2 separate regions of the Homo sapiens genome follow, and region 2 is reported to be linked to region 1. The links are microRNA targets in miRTarBase. Many come from high-throughput screens and were not tested one by one. Region 1 holds a microRNA gene; the other region holds the end of a gene's coding sequence.

Evidence for each region. Region 1 holds the annotated microRNA hsa-miR-6794-5p (CAGGGGGACUGGGGGUGAGC, at 4,219-4,238, opposite strand). A microRNA usually pairs through its seed, bases 2 to 8, with sites in the 3' UTR of a target mRNA and lowers its output. Matches are read on the target gene's strand: a 7mer-m8 pairs with bases 2 to 8, a 7mer-A1 pairs with bases 2 to 7 and ends in A, and an 8mer does both.
Region 2: miRTarBase lists CERS2 as a target of hsa-miR-6794-5p. Seed matches in the 3' UTR shown: 7mer-m8 at 1,142-1,148.

The regions. Positions count from the first base shown.
Region 1 is chr19:12,847,062-12,856,502 of GRCh38, reverse strand. It overlaps MIR6794 (microRNA 6794), which reads right to left and starts at 4,243; the gene lies at 4,176-4,243. MAST1 (microtubule associated serine/threonine kinase 1) reads right to left here. Exons shown (of 26, transcript NM_014975.3): 5 at 9,053-9,213; 6 at 8,816-8,891; 7 at 8,446-8,655; 8 at 4,468-4,569; 9 at 4,256-4,388; 10 at 4,108-4,175. RefSeq lists enhancers at 3,814-4,314, 7,947-8,770, a silencer at 8,640-8,819 and a cis regulatory region at 8,492-8,992.
Region 2 is chr1:150,957,176-150,966,616 of GRCh38, reverse strand. It overlaps CERS2 (ceramide synthase 2), which reads left to right. Exons shown (of 11, transcript NM_022075.5): 10 at 1-141; 11 at 329-1,431. The coding sequence ends at 469. It overlaps SETDB1 (SET domain bifurcated histone lysine methyltransferase 1), which reads right to left. Exons shown (of 22, transcript NM_001366418.1): 15 at 7,270-7,439; 16 at 5,426-6,054; 17 at 4,459-4,487; 18 at 3,898-4,030; 19 at 3,478-3,643; 20 at 2,876-3,087; 21 at 2,534-2,622; 22 at 1,880-2,370. The coding sequence ends at 2,253. Among named protein-coding and RNA genes, the nearest start is that of CERS2, 13 kb to the left of the region's middle. RefSeq lists cis regulatory regions at 1,128, 1,764 and enhancers at 1,055-1,199, 1,692-1,836.

The sequences.
Region 1 (9,441 bases):
GTGAAACCCTGTCTCTATTAAAAATACAAAAACTTAGCCAGGCGTGGTGGTGGTTGCCTATAATCCCAGCTGCTTGGAAGGCTGAAGCAGGAGAACCACTTGAACCCAGGAAGCAGAGGTTGCAGTGAGCCGAGATCACACTGTTGCACTCCAGCCTGGGCAACAAGAGTGGAACTTTGTCTAAAAAAAAAAAAAAAAGTGGCAAAATAAAACTATGTAATCATATTTCAGGGCTATAGGGCAATGGGGAAAAAAGGTAGGAGTAAGATTTTTTTCACTGTATATCTTTCTTGAAAATTATTTTGATTTTTCTTAGGGACAAAGAGATTTATTACATAGATATTACATAAAAAGATCTATGATATATAAAAATATTGAACTTATATGCTCCAAAGAATGTAGCCTAAAAATATCTGACATAAAAATTGACAGAATTGGGCAGAGTGTAAGAGGTATCTTATGCTGTATTTTTCCTTTATTGTTTGCAATACTTCGCACACTATTGTATGGAACTCTTACCTATAATCAAATAAAAACCAAAATGGCAAAAAAAAAAAAAAAATTGACAGAATTACAAGGAGAATTTGCTTAAAATAAGGTTTCACATTTCTCTCAGAAACTATTAGATTAATCAGGCAAGATAAATGAATAGGGAGATGGAAGATTTGAATCACTCAATTAACAAGTTTGATTAAAAGGAATAACAGAATCCTACAAACAATGAGAGATAAATACCTTTTTTTAGAGTTTTAGATTTTGAGTGATGTCATTCCATTACCTATTCAAAAAATTAAACAAATGGCATATATTGTGAGATTCCTTTTAAATATATACATAAAGGAAAGGTATGTGTATATATCTGTGTGACTGTATAGACACAATTTGAAATAAAGATTACAAACTTAAGCGTCTTCAGGGGCCAGTAGACCAGGGTGGAGGCCATGGATGACGAAGGGGCAGGTACCCAATATCACAGGACCACCCCCACTCAGCTGGTTCCACCACAGTATTATTAGAACTTCTTCTTCTTCTATTTTTTTTTAAGTAGAGACAGGGTCTTGCTATGTTGTCCAGACTGGTTTCAAACTCCTGGGCTCAAGCAATCCTGCCACCTTGGCTTCCCAAAGTGCTGGGACTACAGGCATGAGCCACTACACCCAGCCCTAGAACTTCTGATTTTTCAAGAGAAGGCCCAAACCCAGATTTTGAAGCAAAAATCTTTCAATTTTTATATTTTGCTTCTTTTATTTATCTATTTTTATTTTTTTCAAGATGGAGTCTCACTCTCTCACCCAGGCTGGAGTGCAGTGGTTTGATATCGGCTCACTGCAATCTTTGTCTCCCTGGTTCCAGCAGTTCTCCTGCCTCAGCCTCCCAAGTAGCTGGGATTACGGGTGGGCACCACCACACCTGGCTAATTTTATGTATTTTTTTAGTAGAGACAGGGTTTCACCATGTTGGCCAGGCTGGTCTCGACTTCCTGACCTCAAGTGATCCACCCGCCGCAGTCTCTCAAAGTGCTGGGATTACAGCCGTGAGCCATCAGGCCCAGCCCAAATTTTTGAAAAATACTAGGCAGTTCAGAGAAAACACATGTGTGGCCATTGGGGTAGGACTCTCCACTAGACATCTGGAACATCTGCCAAAGTGTGGCTGGCCTGGGAATAGAATTGGCAATTTTCCCCATGCTGAGCTGCCATTAACACATACAGCCAGTTAGCTTGCTCGAAAGCCCATGCAGGATTCCTCTATAAGTTAAACATAGAGCTACCATATGACCAAGAAATTCCACCTCTAGACGTATATCCTAAATAACTCAAAGCAGTTGTCCAGCCAAATATTTGTACACCCACATTCATAAGAGCACTATTTACAACAGATGAAAGATGGACAACCCAATGTTCACCAGTGGATGAATGCATCTACCATTCAATGGAATATTACTCGGCTATAAAAATGAATGAAGCAGTGACACAAGCTACAACATGGATAAACCTCAGAAACGTTATGTTAAGTGAAATAAGCCAGTCATAAGAGGCCACAGAGCATACGATCCCATTTATAGGAAATATCCAGAAAAAGGCCAGGCATGTGGCTCACGCCTGTAATCGCAGCACTTTGGGAGGCCAAGGCAGGCAGATCACCTGAGGTCAGGAGTTCGAGACCAGCCTGACCAACATGGTGAAACCCTGTCTTTACTAAAAATACAAAATTAGCCAGGTGTGGTGGCGCATGCCTATAATCCCAGCTACTCAGGAGGCTGAGGGAGGAGAATTGCTTGAACCTGGGAGGCGGAGGTTGCAGTGAGCCGAGATCACGCCATTGCACTCCAGCCTGGGCAACAAGAGTGAAATTCTGTCTCAAAAAAAAAAAAAAAAAGAAATATCCAGAAAAAGCAATTCCACAGAGAGAGAAAATAGATTAGTGGTTGCCAGGGACTGCAGGGAGGGAGGAATGAGGAGGGAGTGTGTAATGGGTGTGAGGTTTCCCTTTGGGGGTGATAAAAAAGTTCTGCAACTACATAGATCTAATGGCTGTACAGCATGGTGAATTACTAAATGCTGCAGAATTGTTTATTTATTACTATTAATCATTATTATTATTATTATTATTATTATTATTATTATTATTTTGAGACAGAGTCTCGCTCTGTTGCCCAGGCTGGAGTGCAGTGGTGGGATCTTGGCTCACACCAACCTCCACCTCCCGGGTTCAAGCAATTCTCCTGCCTCAGCCTTCCAAGTAGCTGGGATTACAGGCATGTGCCACCACGCCCAACTAATTTTTTTGTATTTTTAGTGGAAATGGGGTTTCACCATGTTGGCCAGGCTGGTTTCGAATTCCTGACCTCAAGTGATCCACCCATCTTGGCCTCCCAAAGTACTAGGATTACATGCATAAGCCATTGCACCTGGCCTATTCTTTATTATTTTTAATTTCATTTTTCAAGACAGGGTCTCACCCTGTTGCCCAGGCTGGAGTGCAGTGGTGTGATCATGGCTTACTGAAGCCTTGACTTCCTGGGCTCATAGGATCCTCCCACCTCAGCCTCCCGAGTAGCTGGGACTACAGGGGTGCACCACCACGCCCAGCTGATTTTTTATGCTGCCCAGGCTGGTCTCAAATGCCTTAGCACAAACAATCCTCCTGCCTTGGCCTCCCAAAGTGCTGGGATTACAGGCCTAAGCCACTGCACCCGGCCCCGAATTGTTCATTTTAAAATGGTTAAAAAGGCCGGGCGCGGTGGCTCATGCCTGTAATCCCAGCACTTTGGGAGGCCGAGATGGGCAGATCAACTGAGATTGGGAGTTTGCAACCAGCCTGACCAACATGGAGAAATTTTAGTCTCTACTAAAAATACAAAATTAGCCGGGTGTGGTGTTACATGCCTGTAATCCCAGCTACTCGGGAGGCTGAGGCAGGAGAATTGCTTGAACCCAGGAGATGGAGGTTGTGGTGAGCTGAGATAGTGCCATTGCACTCCAGCCTGGGCAACAAGAGCAAAACTCCATCTCAAAAAATAAATAAATAAATAAATAAAAATAAAATAAAATGGTTAAAAAAGTAAATTAAATTTTATGTTTCATGGATTTTAACATGACAAAGAGGTCACAGGGGAAGAGCAATTATTTTATTTTATTTTATTTTATTTTTTGAGACAGTTTCGCTCTTGTTGCCCAGGCTGGAGTGCAGTGGTGTAATCTCAGTTCACAGCAATCTCTGCCTCCTGGATTCAAGTGATTCTTCTGCCTCAGCCTCACAAGTAGCTGGGATTAGAGGCATGTGCCACCAGGCTTGGCTAATTTTTGCATTTTTTTTTTTTTTAAGTAGAAACGGGGTTTCTCCATGTTGGTTAGGCTGGTCTCGAACTCCCGACCTCAGGTGATCTGCCCACCTTGGCCTCCCAAAGTGCTGGGATTACAGGCATGAGCCAGCATGCCAGGCTCTGGAAGAGCTATTATTAATCCCATTTTATGGATGGGAAAACTGAGGCTCAGAGTGTAGGACCAAGAGATCCACAAAGCCTGAGGGCAAAGAAGCCGGAGATGAGCCCCACCCTGCCCTCCCAGGAACCAGGGTACTGACCGCTTAGCCACCCAGCCTTACCTCAGAGAGATCGTCTTGCTCAGGGGTGTTGGAACCACCACTGTCCTGTTCCTCCAGATGCACCACATCTAGGGAGGGACTGAGAGTGAGCACGAGCTGGGTTCTGGGCCTGCTCACCCCCAGTCCCCCTGCGCCCACCAGCCGGCACCTGGAAAGGGGTCACGGGTGAGGCCCAGCTGGCGGATGATGTAGCGGGGGATGTCCGTCTTCACAAGGTGGCCCTCCTTGGCGTGTCCTTCGGCCGCCTCCAGCAGGTGGTAGAACTCCTCGGGGTTGAATTCCTGAGGCAGGGCAGGAGTGGGCTCACCACAGGCTCCCAGGGTCTACCAACCCACCCCTACCCATGCCCAGCCCCCTCACCAGGCACTCCAGCAGCCTCGCAGGGCGTGAGATGATAATAAGCAACTTCTTCACCAGCTGAGTAACGAAGGCCACCTCCAAGCTCTCAGAGCGTTCATAGGCCTGTGGCAGGGGACACAGAGGGACAGGGCTCATAGGCACTCTGCCTCAGCCCGGCCCCTCTCTCAGCCCCTCAGAGTACATACTGCTGCTACTGTCCCATCTTACAGGTGAGGAGACTGAAGCCCAAGCCACACAGTAAAAATAATGAGGCTGGGCACGGTGGCTCATGCCTGTAATCCCAGCACTTTGGGAGGCTGAGGTGGGTGGATCACTTGAGGTCAAAAGTTTGAAACCAGCCTGGCCAACATGGTGAAACCCCATCTCCACTAAAAACGCAAAATGAGCCAGGCGTGGTGGCAGGTGCCTGTAATCCCAGCTACTTGGGAGGCTGAAGCAGGAGAATCCCTTGAACCTGGGAGGCAGAAGTTGCAGTGAGCCAAGATCACACCACTGCACTCCAGCCTGGGTGACACAGCGAGACTCTGTCTCAAAACAAAAGCAATGACAAACAAACAAACAAACAACAAAACCATAGCGAGACCCTGTCTCTACAAATAATAAAATTAGCCAGGTGTGGTAGTGTGTGCCTGTAGTCCTAGCTACCTGGGAGGCTGAAGTGGGAGAATTACTTGAGCCCAGGGGGCTAAGGCTGCAGTGAGCTGATTATACCACTGCACTCCTGCCTGGGTGACAGAGAGAGAGACCCTGTCTCAAAAAAAAAAAAAGAAAAAAAGAAAAGAAAAAGAGGCCGGGCACAGTGGCTCACGCCTGTAATCCCAGCATTTTGGGAGGCAGAGGAGGGTGAATTACTTGAGGTCAGGGGTTTGAGACCAGCCTGCCCAACATGGCAAAACCCCATCTCTACTGGAAGTACAAAAATTAGCTGGGTATAGTGCCACACACTTGTAATGCCAGCTACTTGGGAGGCTGAGGCAAGAGAATCGCTTGAACCAGGGAGGTGGAGGTTGCAGTGAGCCGAGATCACATCACTACACTCCAGCCTGGGTAGCAGAGTGAGACTGTCTCAAAAAAAAAAAAAAAGAAAAGAAAAAACTAATATCTTATTGCAATACTTGAAAAGCCTAAAATTAATGCCAAAAATCTATCATAAGCCAAAATATCAAAATTTAAGCCAGATGTGGTGGTACATGCCTATAATCCCAGCTACTCAGGAGGCTGAGGCAGGAGGATTGCTTGAGCCCAGGAGTTCAAGACCACCCTGGGCAACATAGAGAGTCCTCCATCTCAAATGAAAAAGAAAAAGAAAAAGAAAATTAAATAAAGACAGAATCCAACAGGCTGTGCCTAGCCATATTGTAACTTGAGCCAAAAAAAAGTATGCACCAACCTATATGTGTTTTAATGTGTCTTTGAAAATGTCTAATGGTTTCAATGAAAATAGTATTATTGATGAGTTTGCTTTCATTAAAACCAGGACAGTAAAATTATAACACATTCTGGCTTGGTTATAAATAAAATATGTAAACTTAAAATAATGTTGGGTTTTCATTTATCTACTTTTCAAGTTTTTCAAAAATTAATTTAATGTTCTGGGGGAAGAAATAATTACTTGCTTTACCCTGGTCCTGGTCTCAGCCCTAATACCTATTGGGTCTTTGTTTGTTTGACTTGTTTTACTGTAGAGACAGGGTCTCGCTATGTTACCCAGGCTGGTCTGCAACTCCTGGGCTCCAGAAAGCCTCCTGTCTCAGCTCCCCAAAGTGCTGGGATTACAGGGGTTAGCTTCTAACGCCTATTGTTTATCTTCTGTCTCTTCCTGCTATTAATAGAATGTCAGCTCTCCAAAGACAAGAATTTTTGTTTTATTTCCAGTTGATTTCCCAGCTTTTAGGCTAGTGCCAGGCCCATAGTAGGTGCTTAATAAATATTGGTGGGGGCCAGGCATGGTGGCTCACACCTGTAATCCCAGCACTTTGGGAGGCAGAGGCAGGTGGATCACCTAAGGTCAGGAGTTAGAGACCAGCCTGGCCAACATGGTGAAACCCTGCCTCGACTAAAAATACAAAAATTAGCCAGGCATGGTGGTGGGTGCCTGTGATCCCAGCTACTCGGGAGGCTGAGGCAGGAGAATGGCTTGAACCTGAGAGGTGGAGGTTGCAGTGAGCCAAAATCGCACCACTGCACTCCAGCCCAGTGGGATAGAGTGAGACTCTGTCTCCAAAAAAAATAAAATAAATAAATAAATAAATATTGGTGGAATTAATGAATGATCAAGTGATCCTCCTGCCTCAGCCTCTCAAGTAGCTGGGACAGCAGGTGTGTGCCACTACACCTAGCTAATTATTTTTATTTTTATTTTTATTTTTTTTGAGACAGAATCTCACTCTGTTGCCCAGGCTGGAGTGCAGTGGCGCAACCTCGGCTCACTGCAACCACTGCCTCCCGGATTCAAGCGATTCTCCTGCTTCAGCCTCCTGAGTAGCTGGGATTACAGGCACGTGCCACCAAGCCCGGCTAACTTTTTTGTATTTTTAGTAAAGACAGAGTTTCACCTTATTGGCCAGGCTGGTTTCAAACTCCTGACCTCGTGATCTGCTCGCCTCAGCCTCCCAAAGTGCTGGGATTAAAGGCGTGAGCAACCTCGCCTGGCTTAAATTTTTTAAATTGTTTTAGAGATGGGGTCCTGCTATGTTGCCCAAGCTGGTCTCAAGCTCCTGACCTCAAGCAATCCTCCCATCTCAGCCTCCTAAGTAGCTAGCTGGGACTACAGGTGCATGCCACTGCAAAGGGACATTCAAGCATCAATTTACCCAACATTTATTGAGTACCTACTGTGTGCTGGGTATTGTTCCAAACAGCAGGGACACAGCAGTGGACAGAACAGACAACTCCACCCCCCCACCCTCACCAACTATGGGGCTGACATTGGAGAAGGATAGACATGAAATAAAATAAGCAAAAATACACAGTATGATGGATGGTGCTGAGTGTCAAGGAGAAACTGAGGAGAAAGTGGGTGATAAATGTGAGTAGAGTTTAATATTTTATTTTATTTCATTTATTTATTTATTTTTGAGACAGAGTTTCACTCTTGTTGCTCAGACTGGAGTGCAATGGTGTGATCTCGGCTCACCGCAACCTCCGACTCCCAGGTTCAAGCGATTCTCCCGCCTCTGCCTCCCAAGTAGTTGGGATTACAGGCGCCCACCACCACGCCCAGCTAATTTTTGTATTTTTAGTAGAGACGGGGTTTCGCCATGTTGGCCAGGCTGGTCTCGAACTCCTGACCTCAGGTGATCCACTTGCCTCAGCCTCCCAGAGTGCTGGGATTACAGGCCTGAGCCACCGCACCCGGCTAAGTTTAATATTTTATTTTATTTTATTTTATTTACTATTATTATTTTTTGAGACGGAGTCTCGCTCTGTCGCCCAGGCTGGAGTACAGCGGCGCAATCTCGGCTCACTGCAAGCTCCGCCTCCCGGGTTTACGCCATTCTCCTGCCTCAGCCTCCCGAGTAGCTGGGACTACAGGCGTCCGCCACCACGCCCGGCTAATTTTGTGTGTGTGTGTGTTTTTAGTAGAGACGGGGTGTCACCGTGTTAGCCAGGATGGTCTCGATCTCTTGACCTCGTGATCCGCCCCCCTCGGCCTCCCAAAGTGCTGGGATTACAGGCCTGAGCCACCGAGCCCGGCCGAGTTTAATATTTTAAATGACTGGGGACCGCCTAAGAAGCCACCTGAAAAGGTGACATTTGAGTAAAGACCTAAGGGAAATGAGCGAGGTGAAATTCCTGCCTCTTCAGTCGGTCAGACCTAGGGAAGGGACCACTTCCACCCCTGAGTCCTCAGCTCCACGCCAGTGCCTGGAACGTGGTAGGAGCTCCCTGAATGTATGTGGGGTGAAGAAAGGGGTGCATTGGGCACAATCTGGCGGTGCTGAGCCTGAGATCAGCCCGGCCTCCGCGTGCACTCACGTCTTGAAGGAGCTTCTCCAGGTTCTCCTGCAATTCATAGAAGTAGACCGTGGTGATGAGGCCGTCACGGGACTTGGTCAGGCAGTCCCGGGCCAGCTCGATGATCTGGTGGTGGATGAAGCTGAGCACGCCATCGGCCAGAGGCAGAACGCTGTCGGGTTCGTAGGCGCGGGTAAAGTCGCGCAGCTTCTCCTCCATCTGCGCAGTGGCCTGCGGGAGGGACGGAGGAGGGGCGCGGGGCTGTGCCCGAAGGCTGCGGCCGCCAGGAGCCTGCGCTGCGCACCGAGGCCGCCAGGGGGCGCGCGGGGATAAGGCGAGCGAGAGTGCAGGCCGCCTGGTCACCCCGTGACCGCCTCGGGTCCCACCTCACCTTCGGGAACCTCTCCTTGTAGACGTGATTCATCATCACGATCTCGTTGTCGTAGGAGGAGGGGGAGCGCCCGGGGCTGCGGGGAGAGAAGCCCATTTTGTCGAGTCCTCTGCCTCCAAGCCCGCAGAGAGCCCCCGCCCCAAGATGTAACCCTTTTATTCGCGGGGACAGGGGTCTCTCTAAGCACAAGTCCTAAGACCACTAGCTTGGTACGAAGGAGGAGGGATGCCTGCCCACCTGAGGCTCCGTGAGCGGGGCCGCACGGCTGGGGAGCGACGGCCACCATCCTCGTCTGTGATGCTCTCGGTGCTCCCGAAGTGTTTGGAGAGGAAGTGGAGCTCGTCCACCGTGGGCTGGTAGGGCAGCTGGTGAAGGCGCTCCTGGGAGGAGCAGGAGGACTGGGGACAGGGGCAGGGCCGGGGTCAGAGCCACCATGGGCCCCCCAACAGCTCAGGACCCTGAGCTGGGACTCCCAAAGCCGATGGGGTCACTGGGCAAGGCCAGGATCAGGACCTGATTTACGATCCTTGGATCCTAGGATCTTGGCTGGGACTCTTGGCCACAGACAGGTGGACAGGGACAGACAGGGGTGGAGACAGTGAGTCTGTTAAAGCTTGGGTCAAGTC
Region 2 (9,441 bases), not on the chromosome of region 1:
ACCCTGGTGTACCCACTGGAGCTCTATCCTGCCTTCTTTGGCTATTACTTCTTCAATTCCATGATGGGAGTTCTACAGCTGCTGCATATCTTCTGGGCCTACCTCATTTTGCGCATGGCCCACAAGTTCATAACTGGAAAGGTGAAGCCCTGTTCCCATTGTGTAGGCCTTACTACTCTCTACAACTTCCTGAACTCCCATCTTGCCAGTAACTCTCTAAAAAACTAGTGTGGAGCCCTGGGTATAACAGGAACAAGCCCTCAGAGAGAAGCAGTACTTAGGGGTTTGAGGATCTCATGTAATAACCCTTCTTGTCCCTTTTCCACAGCTGGTAGAAGATGAACGCAGTGACCGGGAAGAAACAGAGAGCTCAGAGGGGGAGGAGGCTGCAGCTGGGGGAGGAGCAAAGAGCCGGCCCCTAGCCAATGGCCACCCCATCCTCAATAACAACCATCGTAAGAATGACTGAACCATTACTCCAGCTGCCTCCCAGATTAATGCATAAAGCCAAGGAACTACCCCGCTCCCTGCGCTATAGGGTCACTTTAAGCTCTGGGGAAAAAGGAGAAAGTGAGAGGAGAGTTCTCTGCATCCTCCCTCCTTGCTTGTCACCCAGTTGCCTTTAAACCAAATTCTAACCAGCCTATCCCCAGGTAGGGGGACGTTGGTTATATTCTGTTAGAGGGGGACGGTCGTATTTTCCTCCCTACCCGCCAAGTCATCCTTTCTACTGCTTTTGAGGCCCTCCCTCAGCTCTCTGTGGGTAGGGGTTACAATTCACATTCCTTATTCTGAGAATTTGGCCCCAGCTGTTTGCCTTTGACTCCCTGACCTCCAGAGCCAGGGTTGTGCCTTATTGTCCCATCTGTGGGCCTCATTCTGCCAAAGCTGGACCAAGGCTAACCTTTCTAAGCTCCCTAACTTGGGCCAGAAACCAAAGCTGAGCTTTTAACTTTCTCCCTCTATGACACAAATGAATTGAGGGTAGGAGGAGGGTGCACATAACCCTTACCCTACCTCTGCCAAAAAGTGGGGGCTGTACTGGGGACTGCTCGGATGATCTTTCTTAGTGCTACTTCTTTCAGCTGTCCCTGTAGCGACAGGTCTAAGATCTGACTGCCTCCTCCTTTCTCTGGCCTCTTCCCCCTTCCCTCTTCTCTTCAGCTAGGCTAGCTGGTTTGGAGTAGAATGGCAACTAATTCTAATTTTTATTTATTAAATATTTGGGGTTTTGGTTTTAAAGCCAGAATTACGGCTAGCACCTAGCATTTCAGCAGAGGGACCATTTTAGACCAAAATGTACTGTTAATGGGTTTTTTTTAAAAATTAAAAGATTAAATAAAAAATATTAAATAAAACATGGCAATAAGTGTCAGACTATTAGGAATTGAGAAGGGGGATCAACTAAATAAACGAAGAGAGTCTTTCTTATGCCTTCCTTGCAGTTATGTAATATTTTCTTTTTTAAATTTCACATGCATGTAATTTGAGCACTTTGAGGGGCCAAGGAGGGTGGATCACTAGAGGTCAGGAGTTTGAGACCAGCCTGGCCAACATGGCGAAACCCCATCTCTACTAAAAATACATCTAGCTGGGTGTGGTGGCGGGCGACTGTAATCTCAGCTACTTAGGAGGCTGAGGCAGGAGAATCACCTGAACCCGGGAGGCGGAGGCTGCAGTGAGTCGAGATTGCACCATTGCACTCCAGCCTGGGTGACAGAGCGAGAACTCCATCTAAAAAAATTCACATGCAAGAAGCAAAGGTAGACAAGGTAGAAGATGAATGACAGCAGCCCACAGGGGAGGATGGGGATAATACCTCACTGAAAGATCCAGAATTGGGAGTATCGGGCTGAGAGAGAGAAACAAAACCACAATCTTAGTTTTATCATATTGTTAAAAGACTTTCAAGAAATAATACAAACTGGAGATAGTAGATACACAGGCTCCATTCTAAGAACAAAGTCTGTTAGAAGCAGGAACACTTGGACAAATATGGGATGGGAGGGATGTCAGGCCGAGGTTAGAGTGGTGATCTCTCCCCACCCTTTAGGGCCTTTGGAGGTGGAGAAGGGATCCTGCCTGCTAGCACCACATTGGAAGGGATCATCTGGTCCAGAACCCCCATTTCTATCAACTAGGAGCTGGGGGGAGTAGCTAGCCCAGAGACTTCGGGTCAGGGTTCAACAATCAGGAAGACCCAGTTCCTGAGGAAACGACAGTTCAAGAAGGGTTGGGAAGAAGGCTGTCCTCTAAAGAAGACGTCCTCTGCATTCAATGGCCCCACAGCAACAGAGTAGCTCCTTGCCTTCCACACTGCCCACCTCGTAGTTGTAGTCCCAAGTAAGTTCTGTCCCAGCCCGGATTCTTCTGAAGAGGAAGAAAAGGATGGTGTGTGGCAAAGACAGCAGATAACCCAGGCACTTGGGGTTACTGAATATGTAGGTGGAGTTGGATCATGAATGGAGGAGGGGCCCTTAGAACTTCAGTGGTCCTTGCCCCTCCCCAGTCATCCCCTTTCCTGACTCCTTACTTGCTGGCAAAGAAGGCCACCCAGGGGAAGCGAAGATCATGGGTATCCACGAAGACATTCTGGACAAACAGGTTGGGGCTGCAACTGTGCTGTAGGTTTAAGGACAGGATCAAATAAGAACCAGGGAAACTGAACCTGGCTTTGCAGGGAGAGTGAGAGTTGGAAGAAAAATGATGCCATCTGACCCTCCCCATTATAATAGATGCTTTGAAAGAAAGCTACCTCTTTAAGATCCTTTGAGATCAAGAGTTTATAACAAGAAAAGGGCTTATAGAGTATGTTAAAAGAAATCTGAGGACCATGGGATAATCCAGCATCTAGAGGTGGGGAGAGGGGTCTCACGTTGAGGTAGCGGCCCAGGTTGCCTTCAAGCTTGGCATCAATGATGTAGCAAGACTCCTCGCCATCATAGAATTGGCGTGTGTTCTTACGAACAGGTGCGCTCTCCCCCTTGTCCACAGAGGCCATGTTGGTTGATTTAATTGCAATCCCATGGGTTGATTTAAGAGCAAAGCCTCGGGTTGATTTTACTGCCACTTGACGCTTCATTGGACCTGGACAGGAGGGAGAATGGGGTCAGGACCCATCCCAACTCATGAACAGACATTCTATCATGAATGGACATTCTACCCCTATTTCTCTCCCAACATTGCAGCTGAGAAACACCAATAAGCTGGAACTCAAAGATCCTAAGTAGCAGGTTTTTTTTTCAAGCATAATTAGATCTGCTAGACAAAGGAGCTGAGGGGAAAGAGTAAAAAAATGGAAATGAGAGAGGATGTGTCAAACAATAGTTTAGCTTGGAGTCAGAAAGCCCTCCCAGAGATGCTCCAATTCTTAGGATCTGAATTTTTACCCACTACTTCTTTAGCTTCCTTAAAAAATGCTCTATCCCAAGTTTCTTACTATTTCTTCCCACCATTCCCAAAATTTTTCCAGGCTACCAGTCATGTTCTTCTTGTCCTCAAAGTCATCCCCTTCAGAGCCAGAGGATATGGTCTGGATATCATCACTGTCAACCGCTGTAGCCGAAGTCTGACCAGCAGTGGGCTTTCGGCTGGTCCCACTTTCCCCCTCACTTTCTGTGCTGCTGGACAGTGTCAGGACATCCTGGGGAAGCAGGAGGGTAAGAAGTAAGAGAAGTAAATGGGAAGGGCTCCTTTAAGTCCTTGCTGTTACCCACGGTTTGGCAGGAAAGGGCGGTGGCAAGAGGAAGATTAGATGCTGGATGAAAGAAAATAAGGCAGGAAGTCAAGGCTAAAGAAGTAGGAGAAGACCTAACAGTAATTATAGTGAAGGACTTGATGAGGTGACAATGGCCCATTTTCCTTTATTAGACTCTGAATAAGCTTGAGGTGACTTACATCAGGGTTGGACTGAGCAGAAGCCATGAGTCTTCGGCTTTGATGCATACTAGTCTTACTAGGTGGGCGGCGAAGTCCTTCAGGCTTCACAGGAGAAGGATTGTAACCGTAATTTCGAGAGCTTTCAGTAACTCTAATGGGAGGGGAAGGAATGAAGCCAACAGGTTACTGGCTGTTTCTTAGGCTTCTAGCCTAGGTTTGAGAGAAGGCAGATTTGGAGACAGGTCAAAAAGACAGGCACTGGGCTGGACACGGTAGCTCATGGCTGTAATCCCAGCACTTTGGGAGGCTGAGGATCCCCTTTGGGAGCATCGCTTGAGCCCAGGAGTTCAAGACCAGTCTGGGAAACATGGTGAAACCCCGTGTCTACAAAAAATACAAAAACTAGCCAGGCATGGTGGTGCACACCCGTAGTCCCAGCTACTAGGGAGGCTGAGGTGGGAGAATCTCTTGAGCCTGGGAGGGGGAGGTTGCAATGAGCTGAGATTACGCCACTGCACTCCAGCCTGGGTGACAAAGCAAGACTCTGTCTCAAAACAAAACAAAACAAAAGGCACTTACACTGACATCTTGTTTCGGTCGTCAGTGTCCTGGAAAAGAACAAGTGAAGGGTTAAATGCTTTCACAGCCTCGGGTAACAAGTCCAATAATCAGACTTCAAATGACCTCCACAGATAACATCAGCCAGTGACAGGTACACATTCTAAAGTGGGGTGGGTAAACCACTCTGCAACTTGACAGAAATCCTCACTACACTCCCTGGCTGGAGCCTTTAAGCCTTCTCAGTGATGGGGCTTAATGCTCATGGAAAACACCACGAGCAGGATTACATCAACCAGGGACAGTTTCACCATCTGTAATGTGGAAAGCAGCATAATCATCAAAGAGATACTTAAAATCAATTCTTGTTTCTCTACTTTAGTAGAAGGAAACAATGATGTGAATAACTTGAAACAGCATTTAACATTAAAAAATCACTTATAAATCTTTCATTTTGTAATTAATCAGATACTTGTCCACCCTCTACCACCAGGCAAGTGGATTTTAAAATAATTTTTTTTTTTTTGAGACAGAGTCTCGTTCTGTCACCCAGGCTGGAGTGCAGTGGTGCGATCTCGGCTCACTGCACCTCCACCCTCCAGGTTCAAGCGATTCTCCTGCCTCAGCCTCCCAAGTAGCTGGAAATACAGGCATGCACCACCACGCCCGGCTAATTTTTGTATTTTTTAGTAGAGACGGGGTTTCACCATGTTGGCCAGGATGGTCTCCAACTCCTGAACTTCAAGTTATCCACCTGCCTCGGCCTCCCAAAGTGTTGGGATTACAGGTGTGAGCCACTGTGCCCGGTCAATAATTTGGTTCTTTAAACAAACACTAGGAATGTGCTAGTTAGGGGGAGAGATAACGAGGTGGCCACAGAAATATCCATCAAGTAGAATAATCTACATGCAAAGACTCATGGTGAGACTGCATTGTTACTGCACCAAAGTTAAAGCCATAGCTCTCAGAGTGTTCTGCCACTGCTTACCTCTTTCTTGGCCTGTTTGATGTCTCCCTCATCCTTGATGCCTAGTCCTGAGGTGGAGGCCTTCTCAGCCTCCATTCGGCTTCCCCCAGCCCGGCCCTCCCCACCTTCATTAGTCTTGAAGGATGAATGGCTATCAGAGTCAGCAAAACCACCTTCACTGACACTATTGCAGCTCAACCATGAGGCCACCTTGTTCTTGGGTGTCTCTTCGGAGGAAGGTGGATTGCAGCCACCTACAGGGATTGAGGGAGGAACAGGAATATGTGGGGGTCCAAGATCTGGGGGGTGGGAGTCCTTGGAAGTTGTCTCAGAGAGTCCGTTCTCTTTCTGGCCCCGGGTCTGCCTCCGGGTAGCATAGCTCCGCCACACTGAACTGGTGCTGAAGTCCTCATCCTTACAGAAGTTATCATCTGAGCTATCATCATTGGACTCTTCAGGGTCCTCTGTACCGCTGTTGCCATCTTCCTGGTCCTTCAAGTCTACACCACTGCTGTCAGAGGAACAGGGGGCATCACTCTCATATCCTTCTTTGAAGTTCTCCACGCTCTCGATATGGTCCAGATTTGCAAAGTACTCATCACCCATTTCCAGACCCTCCTTGTCTGCAAAGTCATCTGTCAGGATTTTGCCTGAGAATGAAGAGAATTAAAGGCCTTCTAGGGTTATGGGGACCTATTAGTTTTTTTTTTTGTTTGCTTTTTTTTTTTTTTTTTTCCAGATGGAGTCTTGCTCTGTCACCCAGGCTGGAGTGCAGTGGCGCGATCTCGGCTCACTGCAACCTCTGCCTCCCAGGTTCAAGTGATTCTCCTGCCTTAGCCTCCTGAGTAGATAGGACTACAGGTGCACGCCACCATGCCTGGCTAATTTTTTTTGTATTTTTGGTAGAGATGGCGTTTCACCATGTTGGCCAGGTTGGTCTCGAACTCCTGACCTCAGGTGATCTGCCCGCCTCAGCCTCCCACAGTGTTGGGATTACAGGTGTTAGCCACCGCACCCGGCCACGGGGACCTATTAGAAAGAATAAGGATTATTCCATCAATACCCGCTCTACCAGCATATAGAGTCAAAAAGCCTCCATTCTGGTCTCTCATTTCTGTTTTTTTTTTTGTTTTGTTTTTGAGACAGAGTTTCGCTTTTGTCACCCAGGCTGGAGTGCAGTGGCATGATCTCGGCTCACTGCAATCTCTGCCTCAAGGGTTCAAGTGATTCTCCTGCCTCAGCCTCCCAAGTAGCTGGGATTACAGGCATCCACCACCACACCTGGCTAATTTTTGTATTTTTAGTAGAGATGGGGTTTCAACTATGTTGGCCAGGCTGGTCTCCAACTCCTGACCTCAGGTGATCCACCCACTTCGGCCTCCCAAAGTTTTGGGATTACAGGCATGAGCCACCACGCCGGCCCAGTGTTTCTCTTTGATAATACCTCCCTTTGTATCTTAACTATGAAAGTATGGAGAACTTACTGTCATTTTAAATCTTGCCCTTTCTGTCTTTCCATTTCTTCTACTTTATTGAAACAGAGTACTGGGCTATGCTAAAAGATCTCTGAGTGGAGTGACATGGGAGAAAATGATACACTGGACTCTATAATCATGTCTGTTCTCTGAAATATCACCATGTCCAAAATTTCATCCCTTTTCATTCTCTTATTTGTGAAACACTTGTGTCCCTCTCTGGTCTAGCTAGACAGGTACATCACTCATCACGTTCTTTGTAGAAGTCCCTGGCCTCCTCTTACTCCAGTTCACATGTCAAGCACTTTCTTCTTATGTTCAATTTGTCTCTGGTTCAATTCCCTACCATGTCCCAGTCTCAGGAAACAACCCTTATATTTTATCACCAACCTGCATAAATACAAACAAAAGAGCCTTTGGCAATGTCATCCAAGCAGCGGATACCCCAGCCCTTGTTCTGTGTCTTGAATAGCTGTAGCCGAACTTGTAGTCCATGTTGCACCAACCGGTTTGTGCACATGTTTGGGTCACATTTGCAGCGTTTGTTACACTCATATACCCTGGGAGGAGGTTAGAATAAAATCAATCACGGTATGATCACTAGAGCACAAAAAAATCCATAAAACTATTATAATTCTTAAGCTATCATCATTTATAATGTGTTGTGGATAAAGATTAAAAATTAGGTAATGATCTAAGTGAGTGGATCTATTGAACCATCTATGCTCTTTGATTCATTTGGAAATGTAGCCCAAGGAAAAAATTTAGAGGGCGGAGAAATATTTATAAAGATGTCTATAGCAAGACAGCTCATAAAAGTGAATGCTAGAGTGCCTAACACCTGGAGAAAAGCTAAGTAAACTATAATGGGAATACAGATTACAGAGCCATTAAAATAAGCACTATATGGACGGTCAATTTGTAGAAATAGATGCACAAAATAAAGACATGTGAGAAATTCCTGGTGAGGTTTCTTACTAACAACAGCAAAAATAATAATAATAATAAAAATAAATAAATGTGAGAAAAACAGAGGCCAACATAACAGATACGAAAGGGAATAAAGAGATAGGAGGAACTGTGACTAATGTTCATGGTAAAGTTGATTTTCATTCTTTCATTCAGTAAACAATTATTAAACACCAAGAGCTCTACTAAACACTGGAAACATAACAATGAAAAAGATCGTGCTGGGCGTGGTGGCTCATGCCTATAATCCCAGCACTTTGGGAGGCCAAGGTGGGTGGATCACGAGGTCAGGAGAGTGAGACCATCCTGGCTAACACAGTAAAACCCCGTCTCTAATAAAAATTAAAAAATTAGCCGGGTGTGGTGGCATGCATCTGTAGTCCCAGCTACTTGGGAGGCTGAGGTAGGAGAATTCCTTGAACCCAGGAGGCGGAGGTTGCAGTGAGCCAAAATCAAGCCACTGCACTCCAATCTGGGCGACAGGGTGAGACTCTGTCACAAAAAAAAAAAAAAAGAAAAAAGAAAAAAAAGAAAAAAAAAAAGGTCATAATTTCTACCCTCAGGGAGCTCTTTTTTTTTTTTTTGGAGACAGAGTTTCGCTCTCATTGCCCAGGCTGGAGTGCAATGGCGCAATCTCAGCTCACAACCTCCACCTCCCGTGTTCAAGTGATTCTCCTGCCTCAGCCTCCCAAGTAGCTGAGATTACAGGCACGCGCCACCGTGCCTTGCTAATTTTGTATTTTTAGTAGAGATGGAGTTTATCCATGTTGATCAGGCTGGTCTCGAATTCCCGACCTCATGTGATCCGCCTGCCTTAGCGAACCAAAGGGCTGGGAGTACAGGTGTGAGCCACCGTGCCCAGCCCAGGGGAGCTCATATTCTATCTAATTTAAGAATTTGGGCCAGGCGCAGTGGCTCATGCCTGTAATCCCAGCTACTGAGGATGCTGAGGTGAGAAGATCACTTGAGCTCAGGAGTTCGAGGTTTCAGTGAGCTATGATCATACCACTGCGCTCCAGCCTGAATGACAAAGCAAGTCCACCCCATCTCTGAAAAAGAAAAAAATTTTAATTATTTTTAAACAACCATTAAAGGTAATCAGAGGGATCTAGCACATACCAACATTAAAGGAAGATAACACAGTTATACTAAGAAAACTAATTGTTTCAGGTAACAATGTTTTTGCTCTATTTGCCCAGTGTTAGAATTTTACTTATTTTCTTGGTATGTAAAATCAATGGAAGAAATTTACTTTGGAAATGTATCAACAGCTCAGTTAGTTCACGATTTTAGTCATATCCTCTCTCCAGATAAAGATGGTAAGAGCAGCTTCTAGTTACTAAGCATATACTTTTGTGTTTGGCATTGTGTGAATGCCTTATATATACATATTCTATCCTTAAAGCTGCCCTAATACAGGTGGTGTTTTTTCTTTTTGAGACACAGTCTCGCTTTGTCGCCCAACCTCCGCTTCCTGGGTTCAAGCGATTCTCCTGCCTCAGCCTCCCAAGTAGCTGGGATTATAGGTGCATGCCATCATACCCTGCTAATTTTTGTATTGGAGACAGGGTTTTACCATGTTGGCCAGGCTGG